Linked DNA regions of Homo sapiens. The gene in region 5 interacts genetically with the main gene of each other region. Each region holds a gene or a part of one and is shown on either strand. Other genes may lie near its edges. The genes, in order: DCK, TST, PNMT, GPI, MAP2K2 and KSR1.

What was found.
Region 1: changes in MAP2K2 (region 5) and DCK together harm fitness less than expected from each alone (positive genetic interaction), as found in Homo sapiens cells (one large-scale study listed by BioGRID).
Region 2: changes in MAP2K2 (region 5) and TST together harm fitness more than expected from each alone (negative genetic interaction), as found in Homo sapiens cells (one large-scale study listed by BioGRID).
Region 3: changes in MAP2K2 (region 5) and PNMT together harm fitness more than expected from each alone (negative genetic interaction), as found in Homo sapiens cells (one large-scale study listed by BioGRID).
Region 4: changes in MAP2K2 (region 5) and GPI together harm fitness more than expected from each alone (negative genetic interaction), as found in Homo sapiens cells (one large-scale study listed by BioGRID).
Region 6: changes in MAP2K2 (region 5) and KSR1 together harm fitness more than expected from each alone (negative genetic interaction), as found in Homo sapiens cells (one large-scale study listed by BioGRID).

What each region holds. Positions count from the first base shown.
Region 1 is NC_000004.12:71,028,032-71,031,414, forward strand, and holds the end of DCK (deoxycytidine kinase), read left to right. Parts: intron 1-1,320; coding exon 1,321-1,347; 3' UTR 1,348-2,883; downstream 2,884-3,383. UniProt on the Homo sapiens protein: Phosphorylates the deoxyribonucleosides deoxycytidine, deoxyguanosine and deoxyadenosine. Has broad substrate specificity, and does not display selectivity based on the chirality of the substrate.
Region 2 is NC_000022.11:37,016,648-37,020,721, reverse strand, and holds the start of TST (thiosulfate sulfurtransferase), read left to right. Parts: upstream 1-1,274; 5' UTR 1,275-1,322; intron 1,323-1,968; 5' UTR 1,969-1,989; coding exon 1,990-2,584; intron 2,585-4,074. Other genes in the region: MPST (3-mercaptopyruvate sulfurtransferase), read right to left, coding at 850-885.
Region 3 is NC_000017.11:39,667,209-39,670,975, forward strand, and holds PNMT (phenylethanolamine N-methyltransferase), read left to right. Parts: upstream 1-1,244; 5' UTR 1,245-1,267; coding exon 1,268-1,469; exon of another isoform or gene 1,470-1,813; intron 1,814-2,420; coding exon 2,421-2,628; intron 2,629-2,742; coding exon 2,743-3,181; 3' UTR 3,182-3,267; downstream 3,268-3,767. UniProt on the Homo sapiens protein: Catalyzes the transmethylation of nonepinephrine (noradrenaline) to form epinephrine (adrenaline), using S-adenosyl-L-methionine as the methyl donor. Other substrates include phenylethanolamine and octopamine. Also methylates normetanephrine.
Region 4 is NC_000019.10:34,368,196-34,371,695, reverse strand, and holds part of GPI (glucose-6-phosphate isomerase), read right to left. Parts: intron 3,114-3,500; coding exon 2,994-3,113; intron 1-2,993. UniProt on the Homo sapiens protein: In the cytoplasm, catalyzes the conversion of glucose-6-phosphate to fructose-6-phosphate, the second step in glycolysis, and the reverse reaction during gluconeogenesis.
Region 5 is NC_000019.10:4,100,123-4,103,622, forward strand, and holds part of MAP2K2 (dual specificity mitogen-activated protein kinase kinase 2), read right to left. Parts: intron 3,085-3,500; exon of another isoform or gene 2,695-3,084; intron 2,332-2,694; coding exon 2,254-2,331; intron 1,159-2,253; coding exon 1,107-1,158; intron 1,022-1,106; coding exon 897-1,021; intron 1-896. UniProt on the Homo sapiens protein: Catalyzes the concomitant phosphorylation of a threonine and a tyrosine residue in a Thr-Glu-Tyr sequence located in MAP kinases. Activates the ERK1 and ERK2 MAP kinases.
Region 6 is NC_000017.11:27,623,692-27,626,935, forward strand, and holds the end of KSR1 (kinase suppressor of Ras 1), read left to right. Parts: 3' UTR 1-2,744; downstream 2,745-3,244.

The DNA.
Region 1 (3,383 bases), on a different chromosome or scaffold from region 5:
GAGAACAAGCATATTCTTACATTATGGTCAGTAGGCTAGGTTCATTGACTCCTTACATGATTTTCTGCACACACTGACATTGCAAAGTATGTGATTCACATATGTGCTTCAGAAACATGACAAATCTACTACATGTTTGATTTTCAAAGTTGCTTGAACTATTGTGCTTATTAATGTTATCAGTGTTAAAGCTGCATATGTCAGTGGTCTATGATATTTAAATGAAGAGATTATAAAATTGGTGTTACAGCTATTTTAGAACTATATCTATCTTAGATTGATAGATGCAGTGGCTCACACCTGTAATCCCAGCACTTTGGGAGGCTGAGGTGGGAAGACTGCTTGAGCCCAGGAGTTCCTGACCAGCTTGGGCAACATAGTGAGACCTCATCTCTATAAAAAACAAACAAAAACTAGCCAGACATGATGGTGTGCACCTAGCCAGGAGTTCAAGGCTGCAGTGAGCTTTGATTGCACCACTGTACTCAGCCTGGGTGACAGAGCAATAAATAACTCCTAAAATGACCTTTTAGGTCATTCATCTTTTACTACTGAAGTATTTAACAATATTTCTTTTTTTTCTCGAGACAGTCTTGCTCCGTCGCCCAGGCTGGAGTGCAATGGCACAATCTTGGCTCACTGCCATCTCCACCTCCCAGGTTCAACCAGTTCTGCCTCAGCCTCCTAAGTAGGTGGGATTACAAGTGCACGCCTCCATGCCTAGCTAATTTTTTTTTTTTTTTGAGACGGAGTTTTGCTCTTGTTGCCCAGGCTGGAGTGCGATGGCGCGATCTCAGCTCACCACAACCTCTGCCTCCCAGGTTCAAGCGATTCTTCTGCCTTGGCCTCCCTAGTAGCTGGGATTACAGGCATGTGCCACTATGCCCGGCTAATTTTGTATTTTTAGTAGAGAAGGGGTTTCTCCATGTTGGTCAGGCAGGTCTCGAACTCCTGACCGCAGGTGATCTGCCCGCCTCGGCCTCCCAAAGTGCTGGGATTATAGGCATGAGCCACTGCGCCTGGCCTATTTTTGTGTTTTTAGTAGAGATGGGGGGTTTCACCATGTTGGCCAGGCTGGTCTGAAACTCCTGACCTTAAGTGATCCACCCATCTCGGCCTCCCAAAATGCTAGAATTACAGGCATGAGCCGCTGCGCCCGGCCTTAACAATATTTCTTTGGAAAGTAAATGCAATGGCATTGTGGTAGTTACTTATACAGCTGGGGTCTTCAACTATTATATACTTTTAAATGAAGATGAATATTAGATACCTCAAATTAGTCAAGGAATTATACTGATTTTTTTTTCTTCCTTTCCTCAGGTCAAAGAGTTTTTGAGTACTTTGTGATCTTGCTGAAGACTACAGGCAGCCAAATGGTTCCAGATACTTCAGCTTTGTGTATCTTCGTAACTTCATATTAATATAAGTTTCTTTAGAAAACCCAAGTTTTTAATCGTTTTTGTTTTAAGGAAAAAAGATTTTTAAAATGAATCTTATGCAAAACTTTTTGACCAGTTTCTTTTCTTTTGTTTTTTTTTTAAAAAAGACATTTAAAGACAAAGACATTATTTCTCATAGCAGGAAATGTAGAGGTAGATGGTTCCAGTATCAGCATAGTGACTAAACTACATTATAAAAGATCCAGCTTCCTTCTGTCATTCCCCTCTTTTGTCTTCCTCAGCAGGTTGGCTTTTTTCCCTGGTGCCTCTCACTTCGTTGGTGACCAGTTTCTTAAACTGAAAGCTTTAATGTTACATAGTAAATGGTAGTGTGTCCTGTGTAAATTAGTGTACCTATTAAAAGTTGCAAAGTGGAATTAAAGGAATCCCTAGAATAAGGATTCTGAAGTTTTATTTTAAATTATTATCTTCTTAACAGTTTAGTCCCACCTCTTACTTCCTGCCTCAGTCTGCTTTCTCTACTGTCTGGATTAATTAGGCAGCCTGCTATAAAGTTAAAGTCACACATTTCTATTTTGCAAACACTGTGATTACTCTTTGCTTTGTAGTTTGCTTTGCTTTGTAGGGTTCTGCTTTTAAGTTTTTCTCTTTTTCAGACAAATTACTGATAAAAATGATATTGCTCTATATGTAATATATCCTGAAAGCATTATTTTTTGTTGAATAGGAAATAAAATTAATGAAGACAGAGGCTAGAAAGCATCCATTAATTAATGAGACACACTTAACTACTTATCTCTAAACCATCTATGTGAATATTTGTAAAAATAATGAATGGACTCATCTTAGTTCTGTATATAAATATATTTTCTTTCTAGTTTGTTTAGTTAAGGTGTGCAGTGTTTTTCCTGTGTATTAAACCTTTCCATTTTACGTTTTAGAAAATTTTATGTATTTTAAAATAAGGGGAAGAGTCATTTTCACTTTTAAACTACTATTTTTCTTTCCAAGTCATTTTTGTTTTTGGTTTCTTATTCAAAGATGATAATTTAGTGGATTAACCAGTCCAGACGCACTGATCTTTGCAAAGGAGACTTAATTTCAAATCTGTAATTACCATACATAAACTGTCTCATTATACGTATGCATTTTTTTAGTTTGTTTTTGTTTGGTATAAATTAATTTGTTAATTAAATATTTCTTAAGTATAAACCTTATGAACTACAGTGGAGCTACACTCATTGAAATGTAATTTCAGTTCTAAAAAGATGTAATAATCATTTTAGAATTAAAATTTATTCTACTTTTAAATAAATTATGAATATTAAAGGTGAAAATTGTATAAATTACTTTGATTCCATTTTAAGTGGAGACATATTTCAGTGATTTTTAGTAACCTTTAAAAATGTATAATGACTTTTAAAATTTGTAGAATTGAAAAGACGCTAATAAAAATTTATTATTTATTTGTCATGACTCAAAAGTTGTCTCAGTGTGGTGGTCATAATAGAATTGAGCCTAATGGTGGTCTGGATTATCTCTTGGATCTATTACCTATATCATGTCTTCCATTAGAATTTATTTATTGCTCTTTATAGTTTGCTCTCCTAGAAAGGTAATTAATAATACAAGACTTATTTTTCTCATCCAGAATTTTCTCTTCTGCTATGCCTAAAACTTGAAACTTATACCGAGCCACCTAGAACTTAAGTCTGTCATATGTTAAAGAACAGAGTTGTAAAATGTTTCTAAAATAGAGATATAGATGTTATTGCCTTTGAAAAATGCTAGATACATTGCAACATTAAGTCTGGTAAATAATAGCCTTCTTCATTTGACTAACTTACCTCTTCTTTTAATTTTTTTTTTTTTTTTGTTTTGAGAGAGGGTCTTGTTCTGTTGCCTAGGCCGGAGTACAGTGGCGCAGTTATAGTTTACTGTAGTCTTAAACTCCTGGGCTCAAGCAATACTGCCTCAGCCACT
Region 2 (4,074 bases), on a different chromosome or scaffold from region 5:
GCGCCACTGCACTCCAGTCTGGGCCACAGAACCACAGCCTGTCTCAAAAAACAAAACAAAACAAAAGGTCAGGGTTGGGAAACAGGGAAAGCTTCCAGGCTGGCCTCTGCAAAAGCTAGGGAGGGGCAATGGTGTCCCCCAGTTTGCAAGAGCCCATGGCGAGCTTTTCAGGAATTTTGCCAACTGGTTGTTAAATACAGCTATTATTAAAAATTGAATTACATCAACTTATGATTAAACGGGCTAAGTTCAAAACAGGCAATTTTTTAAAAAGCATGAACCTTCAGGGAAGAGCCAGGTAAACAAAGGCAGCTGGTACCACGTGGGCTTCAGACCAGGGATCAGGCCCGGCCTCAACTCTGGGTGTGTCCTCCAGCAACTCGCTCTGCCGCTCTCTCCTGTCTTAGTAAGTTTCTGGCCTACTCCTCAGGGTTATTGTGGGAATTAAGTCACACCACGGGAGTACCCAGCAAAGTGCCACACCAAGCAGGGCTGGACAATGTTAGTTCCTTTCACTCACTAACAAGTTATTGGCTAGTGTCTCTTCCTGGGGCCTCTGGGTCAGCGGGGTCTCGTCTCCCTGTCCTCCTCTCTCTCCCCCGCCCTCTCTGGTGCCACCAGGTCACCCACTTCCACCCAAGGCTCCCCACCCGCCACTCGCCACGACCCCACCCGGCAGGCCGCCCCAAGCGGACAGTCACCCTTAGTGCCAACGTAGCGGCGCGCCTTCTCTCCTAGACTAAGCCCCCTCTTCCGCCCAGGTCCCGCGCGGGAGCCCCGCGCCGAGCACCCCCAAAGAGCCACTCCCTCCCCCTCCAGAAAGGCAAGCCGCCACGCCGCGGCAGTTACCCGGGTCTCGGACTCCCGGCTTCCTGGCTCCGCCATGGCCCCCGCGGCGCGGCGCCCCCTCCCCGCGCCCGCAGCTGTCCCCTCCTCCCGCCACCAACCTGCAGCGGACCAAAGGGAGGAGACTCCGGCACAGCCCACCGCCGCGGCCACTCGGAGCCGCTGCTGCCCGCGCCTTCCACTGGCCGGGCCGTGGGGGTACGCCCGCTCCGCCCAGCCCAGGCCCGCGCGGCCCCCGCGCCACCCGGCGTCCCCCTCAGACCCCCGCGGGTCCCGGAGGCCCCGCGCGCGAGGTTGGCAGGTGCCGGGCGCGAAGCGGCCGCGCGGGGGAGGCGCGGGATGGCGGCGGGCGGCGCAGGGTCCCCCTCTGGCGGTGGCGCGATGGTGCGCGCCGCCTGGGGAGCTGCGGCCGGGGGTTTGAACCGGCCAACTTCTCCAGCCGGCCGGGGCGAGCGCCAGCGCGGCGTCCGGGGCGAGTGAGTGCGGGGCGGGGGCAGCGGCCGGGCGCCTGGGCCGCCGGTCGGGCCACCTGCTGCCCGGGGAAGGATAGCGTTGCGAGAGTGGGACGGGGTGCCCCGGGAACCCCTGATCCACCTAGGGCAGAGGGCAGCGAGCTACGGGCCGGACTCGGGCACTCTGGAGGCGGGCGAGCTCGGGCTGCCTGGGGAGGCCGCAGGCGATGGCGTGTGCGCGGCTCGCGGAGCTTCCTAGCCGTGCGCCCACCCCCTCTGCCTTGGAAGGAAAGGGGATTCTAAGCCCAAGATGCCATCGCCCCCCATCCCGGGCATGCTTTCATTGCTCTTTCCTGGCGGGATCGAGTACTGTAACTTCTAGGAGCCAGATCCCCGCCCCAGGAAGCGCCCCTACTTGGAGTCCTCGGAAACTCTTGCCCCACCCGCTTCTGCGCTGGGCCCCCGGGCCGGCTGGGAGGGGCGGGGCCGGCTTTCCAGAGGGAATCTGCAAACTTATCCCGCTGCACGCCCCAGCCTCGCTGGCTTGCTGTAAACAAGGAACCCGGGGGAGTGCGGAGGGAGAAAGAGCTTCTCCCAGGCCTCACCCTACTGCACACACCGACTTCCTTCCTCACGCCTGTCTCTCTTTCCTGGTTCCCACCCGTGCCAGGTGACACGCAGAGCTGAAGCCATGGTTCATCAGGTGCTCTACCGGGCGCTGGTCTCCACCAAGTGGCTGGCGGAGTCCATCAGGACTGGCAAGCTGGGGCCCGGCCTGCGGGTGCTGGACGCGTCCTGGTACTCACCAGGCACCCGAGAGGCCCGCAAGGAGTACCTCGAGCGCCACGTACCCGGCGCCTCTTTCTTTGACATAGAAGAGTGCCGGGACACGGCGTCGCCCTACGAGATGATGCTGCCCAGCGAGGCTGGCTTCGCCGAGTATGTGGGCCGCCTGGGCATCAGCAACCACACGCACGTGGTGGTGTATGATGGTGAACACCTGGGCAGCTTCTATGCTCCCCGGGTCTGGTGGATGTTCCGTGTGTTTGGCCACCGCACCGTATCAGTGCTCAATGGTGGCTTCCGGAACTGGCTGAAGGAGGGCCACCCGGTGACATCCGAGCCCTCACGCCCAGAACCGGCCGTCTTCAAAGCCACACTGGACCGCTCCCTGCTCAAGACCTACGAGCAGGTGCTGGAGAACCTTGAATCTAAGAGGTTCCAGCTGGTGGATTCAAGGTCTCAAGGGCGGTTCCTGGGCACCGAGCCGGAGCCGGATGCAGTAGGTAGGTGTCCCAGTGCTGGGTGGTCCCTGGGGAGTATTGCCCCATGGAAGGATAGGGAGTAAGGATGACTGGGACCCTCTCCAGGGTCCGTCCCATGCCTTCAATCCTCCCATGTAGGCCTCAGTCTTTCCATCGATAAAACCAGAAAGTGGAGACAAACCTAAAGGCTTTTTCAGCTTGGATGCACAAGGACCCAAGAATGTGTCCTCATAGCCATGTGCTAAGAAGCCACCTAGCATCTGTGTGAGCAGAAGTCACTGGTGACATGTCCACCACCTCCACTCCCAGGCACCAGCTGCCCCACATGTACTAGGATATACCTAAGGGTGTCATGCCCCTGAGCCAGCGTTTGCATTGCTGTACAGAAACCTCCCACGGACACATCCAGCTTCTCCAGGCCTCTCTCGTCCCGCAGAAACCCTTATAGACATCAACAGTGTCCCTCCCCGCAGGATCCCCCTCTCCCCAAATCTAGCTCTCCTGGGGCCCCTGCCTGCTGTTTGCAAAGGTTCCATAACCTTTCCAGGCAGCTGCAGCCCGTCGGCAGAGTTGTAACAGCAGCTGCCATTTCATGCCAGACACTTGGCACCGCATTATCTCAGCGAACAAAGCTCAATGCCCCTGTTTTGGCAGCGGGGGGTGGGGGGACTGAGATGCCAGGACATAAAGTGGTGGAAGGCAGGATTCGAATCCAATGCTGCCTTGTTTCAAACCAGGGCTATAAACCAGGACGCACCCAATGCTGCCCTACCCCTACTTCCCAGGGCCAGGAGGGAGTCCCCTCTGCTAGTTGCCCCAGGAAGGCGACTCAGAAGTTCCCCTCCTGTGGAAGGGAAGGCCAGGTGGATTGGATACTGCTTGAGGGTTGGGGAGAGCCTCAGGAGAGGAAATGCTGAGTTCTAGAACCTCCTAGCCAGACAGAACCTCGGAGGTCTTCCCTTTTCTAGAGGCAGGACTGCCGTCTCGCTGCCATCACTCCTGCTGAGTGCCCTCCAGTCCCTGCCTGGCCATTTCCAGGAGCAGGGCCCTCTCTTGTCTCTGGGCACCTCCTTGGTGGCTCTTTCCTCAGTCAGAGCTCCTTCTCTACAGAATCTAACTCGTGTGCAACATTTTGCCTGACTTGTTGAAAAACATCTCTTCCTGTCTGTACCTCCTACAGAGAGAATGCTGGGAAAACTGTTCTGCACACTCTTAGAGCTGGAGGGCCTGAACGGTGACCTCACCTGACAGAGGGGAGACTGAGGTGCACAGAGGCAGGGGCCAAGGCCGCATAGCTAGTTAGTGACAGAGCCAGGACAGCAGGGTCTCTGCCCTTTCCAGCGCAGCTTTTTCCAGGCCCCATATTTTTCTTGCCTGCTTGCTCTCTGAAGGTCTGGAGTTGAAGATTCAAGTTCATTTGGCACCTCCCAGAGAATCCTGGCTGGGAACGCCTGCAGCCCTCTCCTGGCCTTGGTTCAAGACGCCTCTTCTCCTTGGGATTTAAGCTGTCA
Region 3 (3,767 bases), on a different chromosome or scaffold from region 5:
GGCAGAAGGGCCCGGGACTCATCCAGAGGGGAAGGAAGGGGTCTTCAGGAAGACCACGGAGATGCCACAGGCAGAATTGGCTTCCCATCTGGGAGATAGGTGGGGAGACCCTGGCATTTTGACAGCCAGAACCTGGGGTGCTGAGCAGAATCTTCATGCCTGGCCTGGCCGCTCCTTCGGAGGGAAGCTGGAGGGTGGGCTGCGAGAGGAGTGGGGTCAGAGCCCCTACATCCGCAGGACCCCAAATCGGCTGGGCCCCAAGGCCCGGACTGCGCTCCCCGGTGGCCCCGGCGGCCCTCCGCGAATGCGTCCTGCCCCTCCCCTGCCCAAGCCCTCTGCCCTCACCCGGGTCCGGCGCCGCCCCCGAAGTGGCGGGAACAACCCGAACCCGAACCTTCTGTCCTCGGGAGCCCCCAGATAAGCGGCTGGGAACCCGCGGGGCCCGCAGGGGAGGCCCGGCTGTTCCGCCCGCTAAGTGCATTAGCACAGCTCACCTCCCCTATCGCGCCTGCCATCGGACGGGCAGTGCCGCGCCCTGCTCTGGGGCCCCCGGAGCGACCACAGCGGAGGCCGGAACGGACTGTCCTTTCTGGGGCGGGGTGGGGAGGGGGTGTCGCTGGAGGGCCCGGTGGCATAGCAACGGACGAGAGAGGCCTGGAGGAGGGGCGGGGAGGGGGAGTTGTGTGGCAGTTCTAAGGGAAGGGTGGGTGCTGGGACGGGTGTCCGGGAGGGAGGGGAGCCTGGCGGGGTCTGGGGCCTCGTCGCGGAGGGCGCTGCGAGGGGGAAACTGGGGAAAGGGCCTAATTCCCCAGTCTCCACCTCGAATCAGGAAAGAGAAGGGGCGGGCTGCTGGGCAAAAGAGGTGAATGGCTGCGGGGGGCTGGAGAAGAGAGATGGGAGGGGCCGGCCGGCGGGGGTGAGGGGGTCTAAAGATTGTGGGGGTGAGGAACTGAGGGTGGGGGGCGCCCAGAGGCGGGACTCGGGGCGGGGCAGGCGAGGCGGAGGGCGAGGGCTGCGGGAGCAAGTACGGAGCCGGGGGTGTGGGGGACGATTGCCGCTGCAGCCGCCGCCCCACTCACCTCCGGTGTGTCTGCAGCCCGGACACTAAGGGAGATGGATGAATGGGTGGGGAGGATGCGGCGCACATGGCCCCGGGCGGCTCGGCGGTCAGCTGCCGCCCCCACAGCGGACCGGTCGGGGCGGGGGTCGGGCGGTAGAAAAAAGGGCCGCGAGGCGAGCGGGGCACTGGGCGGACCGCGGCGGCAGCATGAGCGGCGCAGACCGTAGCCCCAATGCGGGCGCAGCCCCTGACTCGGCCCCGGGCCAGGCGGCGGTGGCTTCGGCCTACCAGCGCTTCGAGCCGCGCGCCTACCTCCGCAACAACTACGCGCCCCCTCGCGGGGACCTGTGCAACCCGAACGGCGTCGGGCCGTGGAAGCTGCGCTGCTTGGCGCAGACCTTCGCCACCGGTGAGCGGGGGAAACTGAGGCACGAGGGACAAGAGGTCGTCGGGGAGTGAAAGCAGGCGCAGGGAAATAAAAAGAAGGAAAGGGAGACAGACCAGGCGCCTAACAGATGGGGACCAAGAAACAAGAGATAGCTGAGAGGTGCAAACAGAAGAGAAAAAAGAGCAACATCCCTTAGGAGAGGGGCAGAGGAGAGAGAGGTGGAGAGAGGGGGCGGAGAGTGCTCAGAATTGAGAGCTAAGGTGGGGGATGCAGGACAGACTGAGGTGGAGATGCATAGGAGGAAATGGAGGCAGATGTGGGACAGGGGTGAGAAACTGCCAGGATTTCCTCGCTGAGCCTGGCTGGTAGGTATAGTTGTTTTCTTTCTTTTTCTTTATTTTATTTTCATTTATTTACTTATTTTTATTTTTTATTTGTTTTGAGACGGAGTTTCGCTCTTGTTGCCCAGGCTGGAGTACAATGGCGCCATCTCGGCTCACTGCAACCTCCGCCTCCCCGGTTCAAGCGATTCTCTTGCCTCAGCTTCCCTAGTAGCTGGGATTACAGGCATGCGCCCCCATGCCTGGCTAATTTATTTGTATTTTTAGTAGAGACGGGACTTCTCCATGTTGGTCAGGCTGGTCTCGAACTCCCAACCTTAGGATCCACCCACCCCGGCCTCCCAAAGTGCTGGGATTACAGGTGTGAGCCACTGCGCCCGGCCAGTAGGTATAGTCTTCTAGATGTGAAACCTGAGTCTCAGAGCGGTGAAGTTCCCTTCCGAAGGGCAGCCCATGTTGGAGCTGGGTTCAGTCTAACTCTGGGGCCAATGCTTTTTCCAGATGGAGACACATTTGCAGAGGAGAAGGAAGAACTAGAGAGAGGCAGGGAGATGCAGGGGAGGGAAGGGTAAGGAGGCAGGGGCTGCCTGGGCTGGCTGGCACCAGGACCCTCTTCCTCTGCCCTGCCCAGGTGAAGTGTCCGGACGCACCCTCATCGACATTGGTTCAGGCCCCACCGTGTACCAGCTGCTCAGTGCCTGCAGCCACTTTGAGGACATCACCATGACAGATTTCCTGGAGGTCAACCGCCAGGAGCTGGGGCGCTGGCTGCAGGAGGAGCCGGGGGCCTTCAACTGGAGCATGTACAGCCAACATGCCTGCCTCATTGAGGGCAAGGGGTAAGGACTGGGGGGTGAGGGTTGGGGAGGAGGCTTCCCATAGAGTGGCTGGTTGGGGCAACAGAGGCCTGAGCGTAGAACAGCCTTGAGCCCTGCCTTGTGCCTCCTGCACAGGGAATGCTGGCAGGATAAGGAGCGCCAGCTGCGAGCCAGGGTGAAACGGGTCCTGCCCATCGACGTGCACCAGCCCCAGCCCCTGGGTGCTGGGAGCCCAGCTCCCCTGCCTGCTGACGCCCTGGTCTCTGCCTTCTGCTTGGAGGCTGTGAGCCCAGATCTTGCCAGCTTTCAGCGGGCCCTGGACCACATCACCACGCTGCTGAGGCCTGGGGGGCACCTCCTCCTCATCGGGGCCCTGGAGGAGTCGTGGTACCTGGCTGGGGAGGCCAGGCTGACGGTGGTGCCAGTGTCTGAGGAGGAGGTGAGGGAGGCCCTGGTGCGTAGTGGCTACAAGGTCCGGGACCTCCGCACCTATATCATGCCTGCCCACCTTCAGACAGGCGTAGATGATGTCAAGGGCGTCTTCTTCGCCTGGGCTCAGAAGGTTGGGCTGTGAGGGCTGTACCTGGTGCCCTGTGGCCCCCACCCACCTGGATTCCCTGTTCTTTGAAGTGGCACCTAATAAAGAAATAATACCCTGCCGCTGCGGTCAGTGCTGTGTGTGGCTCTCCTGGGAAGCAGCAAGGGCCCAGAGATCTGAGTGTCCGGGTAGGGGAGACATTCACCCTAGGCTTTTTTTCCAGAAGCTTCCTTGAGGCTAGCATTCTGTACCACTCATTCTTCCCAAACTAAGGAAGGCCAAGGTCAGGGGAGCTCACCGGGCACCTGCAGTGCACCAGGCACTTGTGATATGCCATTGTGTCCATCGCATCATTCATTCCTGCATTCAGCAGCAGGTCCTGCTAGTCTGTTTCCAGGTGAAGCTCAGAGAGGTGAAGTCACAAACAGTGCAGACTGCTTCAGACCAGAACGAGGGAGAGTGGGGATCATGAGGAGATGGAAGTAGAATCTGCAAGGTGGTGGGGAGGTGGGGGTGTTATGATTGAAGCACAATGGCCGAGGGAAGTGAAAGGGAAAGAACTGGCTCCAGCTCCCTCTCACAACTGGACTTGAGTTCTGCCCAGCTCTGCCTCTGGGGCCTG
Region 4 (3,500 bases), about 30 Mb from region 5:
TTTTTTTTTAGTAGAGATGGGGTTTCATTATGTTGGCCAGGCTTGTCTTGAACTCCTGACCTCGTGATCCACCCACCTCGGCCTCCCAAGGTGCTGGGATTACAGGTGTGAGCCACTGCACCAAGCCAAATGTGTCTATCTTTATTACAATTACACCCAGCCTTCATTTGACCAAATGAGTCTTTACCATACCCACCAATTCTGCAACTTCCTTTTTCAACTTCCCAGTCCATCCTGAACAGCATGGCAGATCAATCCAACTATAGCTCCCTAATCCCTATTGGTGCCCAGGATGACAGTATATGAATATGTGCTGACTCTACTTTGTAAGTCCCCTGACAAATGAGTACAGCTTGGTTTCAGGTTTTGCCACTACAATCAAGGTCACAGTGAACGTCTTCACCCAATCTTGGCAAACTTTGGAGAGCACAGCCATGGGGAATGTTCCTCACCAGGGGATTACTGCCATTCAGCAACTTTTTTTGAACTATAAATACCTTATCAGCCTGAGTCAGGTACTCCAGTGGCCAGCTTTAAGGGAAGGCTTTCCTGGAAACAGCACCCCAGACGGTGCAGTGCCATCCTCGCCATGTGGCATGGCTGAGCACACCCAGACTGATCACACAGCACTAGGCTTTTAATGCACTTCAGCTCTGCCACTCACAGCAGATGGCTGGAAAGGCCCCGCCACACACCCAAAGACCATCACATGGACTGATCACCCTAAGTGACATTCAGGAAATCCAGATTCCCATCAGGACCCCACAACTTCCTTGCCCTGGAGGCGTCTCACTCTGTCACCTGAGCTGGAGGACAGTGGCACAATCTCAGCTCAGTACAGACTCAACCTCCCGGGCTCAAGCAATCCTCCCACCCCAGCCTCCCAAGTAGCTGGGATACACCACCACACCTAGCTGATTTATTTATTTTTTCCAGAGATGGGTTGGTTTTTTTGTTGGTTTTTTTTTTTTGAGACAGAGCCTCACTCTGTCACCCAGGCTGGAGTGCAGTAGCGTGATCTTGGCTCACTGCAACCTCTGCCTCCCGGGTTCAAGAGATTCTCCTGCCTCAGCCTCCCCAGTAGCTGATATTACAGGTGCTCGCCACCATGCCCGCCCAGGTAATTTTTTTGTATTTTTAGTACAGACGGCGTTTCACCATGTTGATCAGGCTGATCTCAAACTCCCGACCTCACATGATCCACCTGCCTCAGCCTCCCAGAGTGCTGGGATTACAGGCGTGAGCCACTGCACCCAGCCCATTTTCAGGTCTGAAAGTGGCTCTTGGCCAAAGTAACTGGACTCTGACCAGCCACACATGGAGGCCACTGCTCCTAGGACAAGCAGCAAATGATCACAGCTGACAAGAGTTTGGACGATCACCCTCGTAGCATGCACAGCCCACACAGGCACACCGGCATCACCCTCGTTCTCCAGACGTGAGGATGTCTGCCAACCCACCCCTGCAGAATCACCGCTAGGGTAGACACTGAGGCAAGTGCTTGATGTGGGGAAACTTAGCTGGTCTCTGAGGCAACCCCTACCACCCTACACACAAGGAAAAGAAGGCATGTTACATGCACTGTCACTGACACACGGACACTGCTTACATACTTCCAGGTGGAAATAAGCTTCAGAGGAGCAGGGAGAAAACCAACCTGTGTGCATGTGCACATGTGTACGTGTTTCAAAGAGGAGATGACAGATGTGTATGTGCACAGGAACTTTCTGGAAGACTTCACAGGAAAACTTTTCTATTTTTTAAATTTATTTAGAGACACGATCTTGCTGTCGCCCAGGCTGCAGTGCAGTGGTGTCACCATGGCTCACTGCAGCCTCAACTTCCCAGGCTCAAGCCATCCTCCCACCTCAGCCTCCTGAATAGTTGGGAATAGAGGTATGAGCTGCTGCGCCTGGCTACAGGAAACTTTACAAAGGCTGCTTCTGGAGGGTTAGCTGGGAATGGGGATGAGGAAATTTTTTTTTTTTTTTGACAGAGTCTCCCTCTGTCGCCCAGGCTGGAGTGCAGTGGCGCAATCGCAGCTCACTGCAACCTCTGCCGCACGGGTTCAAGCGATTCTCCTGCCTCAGTCTCCCAAGTAGCTGGGATTGCAGGCGTATGTCACCAAAACTGGCTAATTTTTGTATTTTTAGTGGAGATGGGGTTTCACCATGATGGCCAGGCTGGTCTCGAACTCCTTACCTCAAGTGATCCACCCACCCCGGCCTCTCAAAGTTCAGGAATCACAGGCATGAGCCATCGCGCCCAGCCAGGGTTGAGGAAATTTTACAATGTTTTATCTGTTTCTAGACTGGGTGATAAGGGCGTATGACAAAAGAGATTAGAAAAAGCTCCTTCCGGCCAGGCGCAGTGGCTCATGCCTGTAATCCCAGGTGAGGCAGGCAGATCACCTGAGGTCAGGGGTTTGAGACCAGCCTGGCCAACATGGTGAAATCCCGTCTCTACTAAAAATACAAAAATTAGCTGAGCAGGGTGGCGCATAATTGTAATTCCAGCTACTCGGGAGGCTGAGGTAGGAGAATAGCTTGAATCCAGGAGGCGGAAGTTGCAGTGAGCTGAGATAGCACGACTGCAGTCCACTCTGGGCGAGAGAGTGAGACTCCATCTCAAAAAAAAAAAAAGAAAAAAGAAAAAGCTCCTTCCTTTCCTGACTGTCCTGTCTCTCAGGGGCCCCACTTTTCATTTGAAGCCTCTGTGGTTTGTCACCATGAGTCCATAGGTGTCTACAATTCAGGAAAGAAACTGGCCCCACTTCTGCCAGCAGCAGATTCCTTCAGAGCAGAGCCAGGAGAAATTCAGGCCTCAGCAGAGACTCCAGGGTCAGCGATCACACAGGCAACCCCTCCCTTAAGCTGCAGTGAGAACCTGAGTCCTGCCTACAAGAAGAGGGAAGAGCTGCCCCTTAGGGCTCCCAGATTCCCAAATAACTCACACACACGGCCAAGGGTGAGTCCGGCCCAGTAGCCACTTACCTGGCAGAAAGACTTCATCTTGTCCAGAACCTTGTTGACCTCTGGCATCACATCCTTGCCGTCTACCAGGATGGGTGTGTTTGACCGGTTCCGCAGAGCCACGTGCAGCACGGCTCGACCCTGGGGATTACGGTCAGGATATAAAGACTGCCCCCCCCAACCCCAGGCAGCCATGCTCCCAGCTGGGCATGGTGCCATAGCTCGGCCCTCTATCCACTAGACAGGCAGGCCCTGAGGTCTCTGTTAGCACCATAACCTTGTTCCAAGAACCCACTGTATGCTTAGAGGAGTAGGAGCTCCCCAAGGACTTATGTGCTGCAGACAGTCAGGAGGAGAGGAGGGGACCCATATATGCCTAGGACAGGCCCCGAAGGCCTGCCAGAGATGCTCAGGGCATGAACAGTGAGAGAAAAGAGGAACAGTGAGCAAAGGCAGAGAATGGCAACAATACATGTCAGAAACAAGCAATAAATGCTTTCAGAGGCCGGGCGCCATGGCTCACGCCTG
Region 5 (3,500 bases):
GTAGTCCCAGCTACTCGGGAGGCTGAGGCAGGAGAATGGTGTGAATCCGGGAGGCGGAGCTTGCAGTGAGCGGAGATGGCGCCACTGCACTCCAGCCTGGGTGAGAGTGTGAGACTGTGTCTCAAAAAACAACAACAACAACAAAAACAAAAACCAAATTACCCAGCTGTGGTGGCACATGCCTGTAGCCCCAGCTGCTTGGAAGGCTGAGGCAGGAGAATTGCTCCCGGGTGGGAGGCGGAGGTTGCAATGAGCCAAGATTGTGCCATTGCACTCCAGCCTGGGTGACAGAGCAAGACTCTGTCTCAAAAAAAAAAAAAAAAAAAAAAAAAAGAAAGAAACCTGGTAGGCACTGCTAGAGACAAAAACCTAAGAGAGAATTCCAACAGGAAGGGGAGATCTGGCCGGGCGTGGTGGCTCAGGCTCACTGCTAGTGGAATCCCAGCACTTTGGGAGGCTGAGGAAAGAAGGTCACTTGAGTCCAGGAGTTCATGAGCAGCCTGGGCAATACAGCGAGACCCCGTGTCTACAAAAGATTAGTAAATTAACAAATAAAAAATAAAGAGCAAGGGGAATCCGAAAAGCAGGCTCCCAGGAGGCACCAGCTTTAGACGTGCCTTGTGGCAAGTGGGGAGAGCTGATGAAGGGGAGGGTGCAGCTGGGGTGGGACTGTCCCGGGGGTGCTAACAGCCATGTAGGAGTGTGTGCCCACGAAATAGTTGGGAAAGCCTCGTGGGAGGCGGGGAGAGCTGCGCAGGAGAACTGGGAGGGACAGCTGCGCAGGAGACATGGGGGTGAGAGCTGAGGGGGAGAGCTGGCTGGCAGAGCTGGGTGGGGAGAGCTTGGGGGAGAGCAGCAGGGAGGAGAGCTGGAGGGGAGAGCCAGCGGGGACTCACAGCCATGTAGGAGCGCGTGCCCACGAAGGAGTTGGCCATGGAGTCGATGAGCTGGCCGCTCACCCCGAAGTCACACAGCTTGATCTCCCCTCTAGAGTTCACGAGGATGTTGGAGGGCTTCACATCTGGAGGCGGCAGGCTGCGGGTGAGGGGCGCCCAACAGTTGCCTGCCGGCCCCCGGGGCTCTGGGGAGGGCGGGCTGGGCCTTACCTCGGTGCATGATCTGGTGCTTCTCTCGGAGGTACGCCAAGCCCCGGAGAACCTGCAGGGGAGCGCGGAGGGAGTCACGGGACAAGGCCACCAGGGCTTAGCTCCTGACCGAGCCCGGGGGTCAGAGCTGAGCAGTCAGAGCTGGAGCGAGGGAGCTGCGGCAGGAACCATTTCAGGCTGTGAGGAGCTCGCTGGGGTGGAGCAAGCGAGGCCAGAGACGAGACAGTGCTGACAGCCCTGTGCTGGCGTGTGCAAGTCAACCCCGGTTCCCATGGCCGCAGTGCCGCCGATGCCACTACTGCCTTTGATTCAGAGCACACGGCTTAGCCCCAGGGAAGCTGAGATGGTGGCCCATGGCCCGGGAGTAGGCTGGGCTGCCGAGTTTGCCCACATCAGCCTGAAAGGCAGCATCTGGGGTCCCAGGGACTGTGCTAAGGGCCCCCAGATGGGACGGGCTAAGGGTGCCTGGGAAGGACGATGTTTCCCCCAGGCCCGCCCTGGAAGCAGCATCCCGAGAAGTGAAGCAAGCAGCACAGGCAGTGTGACGGCAGCTTTCAACTCGGAAACGCGTGTCTGGCAGCATGCGTCCTGTGTCTTAATCCAACACTGGTATGGGCAGGCGGGACTCGGCCCCTGCTATGGACAAGGTGCAAGCTCCAAGAAGCAACACGCACGGTCTGCTGAAACCACACGGCTCTACGGAGCAGCTGTGCTGGAGACCGGGCAGCAGAGACGCCCTTGGCCCCGGTGACATTTCTAACAGCAATGGTGAGTGTGTCTGGAGGTCCTGGCGTCCCACATCCCACCCCAGAGTCTCCCTTTCAACAAGCTCCTGTCCCCTGCAACGTGCCAGCTGCCAACATCCCCCTGCCACGAGGGGCAGAGGGGACCAGTGTGGCAAACAGAGGATACTAAGAGTGAAGAGGGACCTATAACGTCTTCACTTGGCAGATGGTGACCTCAGGCCCCAAAAGGGACGTCACTTGTTCAAGCTCCACAGCAGGTGGGCACAGCCTTGGCCACTCTCTTTCTGCAGGGGCCACCCTAACCCCCACCACACTGTGAGTGGCTCCCGGAACCCTGGCCGTGTGGAAGAGGTCCGTGCAGAGTGCGGTGGGGGCGCGATGTGGGTCTGCGGTGGACTCACCGCGATGCTGACTTTCCCCAGGATCTCCTCGGGAATCCTCTTGGCCTCTTTCAGCACCTGGTCCAGGGAGCCGCCGTCCTAGAGGGCACACAAGGAGTGAGTGCAGGCTCTGCGCAGGTGGCCGGGAAGCCACGGATGCGTCCCCCCACTCCCGGCGAGGGGGTGGTCTGCCTCCTGACGGGAAGCAGGGGCCGGAGCCCAACTCCACCCACGGGCCAAGGGCAGGGCGTCTTCTGACAGTTCTGCCTTTGGGTCTGAACACCCACCCACAAGGTGGGGAAGGAACAGGGCCCAGGGTTCCCCCGCCTCCCGTCCCATCCTCGAATCAGTTGCGTGACTCGGCCCTCCTGAGGTCGCCACGGCAGAGGCTCTGCTCCGGGCCAGCCCAAGCCGCGGCCGGGGGCTCAGGCAGCTGTGGGGCCCGCACTCCCTGCAGCCTACGTGGTGGGCTTGTCTGTGCGCCACGGGAGGCGGCCAGGCTGGAGACCAGCGTCTTGGGCCTGCGTCCTCTTCCCAGCACACGAAGGGAAGGGGAGGGTGAGGGCGCGGAGGAGACGCGGGTGCTGCCCCGCGTGGGAGGAGGCGGCGGGTCGCTGTGTGCCCGTCCAGACCCCCAGGGGGCTCCCTCGCCAAGCCCTGCGGCTCCACTGCTGGGCGTCTGCCCTGCGCCTGTCCCTGCCACCTAGGGCAGAAAGGCCAGGCCGAGTAGGACCAGGGGCCAGGGGGTGCATGGACTGCAGGAGGGATCCCAGTGACGCCAGCCCAGGTGACGGTAACCTCGGCCCCTCCCCACAGCCTGTGGTCTCCTCGCCACTGTGCCGGGCATCCTGCGGAGGGCCTGGAAACGAGTCATCATGGGTAGGCTGGTCCCCGGGTGTGGCCCCACATCCATGTCATAAATGATGAAACAGAAATTCCATGTCTTGCCCAAGGCTGCCTGGCAACAAACCTGGGGACCAAAACCCCCAAATGCCAAAACCCCAGGCACTGGGAGCCACCCAAGGTGCCTCTTCAGAGGCAGAGGCTCCGGACACACCTGCCAGGCCACCCCCAGGACAGCAGGGGTGACAGGCCAAGTTCCCACTGCCACCGTCTGGCGTGCGTCTCTTCTGTGCTCAGCAGAGAGGAAAGTGGAACTGAGGCTAGAGAGGGCGGGCTGGAGGAGCCTGGAGAGGCTGGCTGGGGAGCCTGGATTTCCCCACCATGCTGCTCCAGGACTCCTGCAAAAGCCCAGCCTTCCCTGGGAT
Region 6 (3,244 bases), on a different chromosome or scaffold from region 5:
AGATGCACTGGCACTGACGGCCAGGATGGCGGAAATGGCCATCCCCTCTGAGGACCTTGTAGGCGGTGAGGGACCCATGCTGGGCCAGAAGGAAGACAAACATGGTAATTGCAGCTGTTCTTGGGGTAGGGCGGGGAGCCCAGAAGGTCTGATCTGGCCTCTGCTTTTTGGCCCAAGACTCCATCAGGGAAATCTATCTAGGGCTCTCCCCTTGTCCTTTCAAAGGGATACTGCCCCTTCCTCGTCTTGCAGAGGAAACCCTGGCTAGGAACTGAGCTAGTTTATGGAGTCTGGAATTCCTGGAGAGCTTGGGTTCACCTTCTCACCCCTGTAATCCAGGCTGCTCCTGCTGGAAAAGTAGAAACAGAATCCAAAAAAGGTCTGGACTCACCCGGTGGTTCCCAGCCAGGGTTTCTGCTGCAAGGTGAGGAAACATCCATGGCTTGTACAGATGTGAGTCTTTGATGAAGCCCCCAGGCAGGCACCAAGGTGATGGGACTCAGGGCCTTGGCTTTTAGATACATCCCAGTCCCTGACTGACATCTGACCATGAGGGCTGGATGGGTGGGAACAAGGAGGAGTAGATGGCAAAAGTACCTGAGCCCACTTCCCAGCCACAGGGTGACCCTGGCACTGTAAAAACCCTTTGTCAGTCATGCCAGAAGGTTCTAGAACTGCCCACCTCTTCCATTTCAGTCCTGCTGAAACCCCTTAGCCTATTTCCGACTCCTCTGTCCATGCTCTGAGTTCAGCTGGGCAGTGTGTGGGCTATCACCCCTTTCATTTAGACCTACCTAGCTGGCCCCCATCTGCAGAGCCTTCCTTAGCACCATTAGGCCTTCTACTTGTGTCCATTTGAAGCAGGAGGGGCTGGATTTGGAAAAGTCTTTGAAGTGAGAGCACCACGCTTGTCTTCGTTAGAAACTCTTAACTGCAGAAAAAAGTTCCAGATGGCAAGGGAGCCCTTAAGTGGAGATTAGGTTGCATTAGACTCCAAAACCAGAAAGGAAAAAGGGTGATGGGAGTGGAGACGTGATTGGATTCAGGCCCAGAACCTGTGACCATGCTCTGAGCTCAGACTTGGGGAGGGAGGGGTGTGGCTCCCACCCCTTCCAGTTAAGACCTGCCTAGCAGAGCCCCAGTCTCCAGCCCCTTCCCTAGCACCAGAGTCTGGTCAAAATGCCACAGAAAATGAGCTGCTCTGCCAGCAAGCTGTGGAGCTGCCTCCTCTCCAGGCCTGGCATCCCTTGGTCAGCCCCTCCTGGGAGGGCACAGCCGTATTACAGTGCCAGTGTGCCTGGCCATCAGCATCTTCACCCTTCCCAGTCTGTGTGGGGAGGCTGTAAACCCCGTGGATTCAGCTCCGTGTGGAGTTTCTGTGCTATGGTGGGACTGCTCATTTTGCCCCATCATCCCTTTGGCCTCCCACACACCTGCCCCTTCCCAGGGATCACGTGTGTCTCCAGCCTTTCACCTTTCTATTGCAATGGTGGCCTTTGTCCAGGCAAGAGCAGGCCTGATGGATGTACTGGTGAGCCCCACAGTTGGATGTCAGCTCAGCCGTCCAACTGGGAGGAACAGTAGGCTCAGTTCCTCCCTGACCCCTGACACCAGGCCGCAGTGGGCATGCACAGGCCCACAGAAAGTCAGTCTGGGTTTTGCTTTTCTCGTGAGCATCACAGTTAAAGAAGCGCTCATTGAGCAACTACAGTGCACTTGGTCTTCTGCAAGTGCTGGGCACCTAGAGATAGGAACAGTCATGGTCCCTGCTCTTAAGGAACTGATGACCTGGTGGGGCCCTGTTGTCTTCAAGGAACCCAGAAGCCACTGGGCCCCAAAGGTGGAACTGAAGGACTGGGGGCAGCTGGCTCTCAGCCTGCCACCTCTGCACTGCCTGCCTTTAAAGAACCCCACCCCACCCCATGATGGCCCCCTCTGTTCCCCTTGTATTTCAGTGACTGTGAATTGAGGTTAGGAAGGCACACCTGCCCTTCTGTGTGCTCTCTCCACACGAAGGATGACAGATACTGTGAATTCAGCCCTCACGGCCAACTGTGAAGGGGATGGAGAAGGCTGGGAGGGCTCGGGGAGAGCTCTTAGGGGCTGCGGAAGTCCCCACGGGGGTCTGAGAGTGGAGCCCAAGCTTTGGCCCTCCAGGCATCCCCAGTTTCCAGCCTCACCTCTGAAGCCCTGCTGCCTTTAACCACCAGAGCCGCAGCCCCCTGGGTTTCTGTCTAACTCGAAGTCTTGAATCCTAGCTAGTTTGGGGTTGTGAGCAGTGTGTAGCAAAGTTGATCTCTCCATGTCACCAAATCAAAACACCCTCTGTCATCCTACGGCATTTCCTCTTGAGGTCACAGAGAGGAATGGCAAGCCCTGGAAACCTGTGTTATTCTGTGTTGATTTGGTGTGGGGGGAGGGTGGAGACGTAAATGTGAAGCCAGTTGGAGTTTGTGCTATGCAGCAGTGTTAGCCAGGATCTCATCAGCGTGCAAACCTAGCATCTTCTGTGGCCACAAGCCACACACTTGCTTTTTTTGAATGTGATGTAAAATTTGTACAGTAAAGTTTTTATATTTTCTATCAACTACATTTGTCTTCCAGACATGCTATTAATTTAAATTAAAATGGTTAGTATTAACAAACATGCTGTATCGGGTTTTTTTGCCACTGGCAAGAACATGCCCTCTGTGCTAAGCCAGGCCTGGGTGTCTGGAGTTTGTGAATAAAGTTATACCAAGGTGTTCTGGGGCTTGTCTTTGCTTTGGTCAGTTCCAGCTGAGTCCTGGGGACCATTTGGATGGGTGGCATGGGAATGGATAGGTCTGGGGTGACTGAACCCCTGGTCTATAGATTAAGGAGCTCCTTCCAAAGGAAGAAGTTATGCCAGGACCTCAGTGGCAGGTGTTTCTAAACAGATGGAGGAATGGAGAAGGCACAGCGTCAATGGCCCACAATGCGCAGAGGAAGATCATCCAGGCCCCAGCAGCAACAAAGCCATGAGCAGGCCCAGCATCTCCTGAGCTGGAGATGCCTTAGCCTTATGGAAGCCTTGGAGGGATGAGGTGGTGTTCATCTGAATCCAATATCTAGGAGCCCCTCATTGCCAGTTATATATACAGATAGGTGGAGAAGAGGTACTTTCTAAACACCATCTCACTTTAATCCTCACAAGGCCATGAGGTAAGAATTGTGATGTTTCAGCTGAGGAAAATGAGAAACGGAGAGGTTAAGGTATTCACCC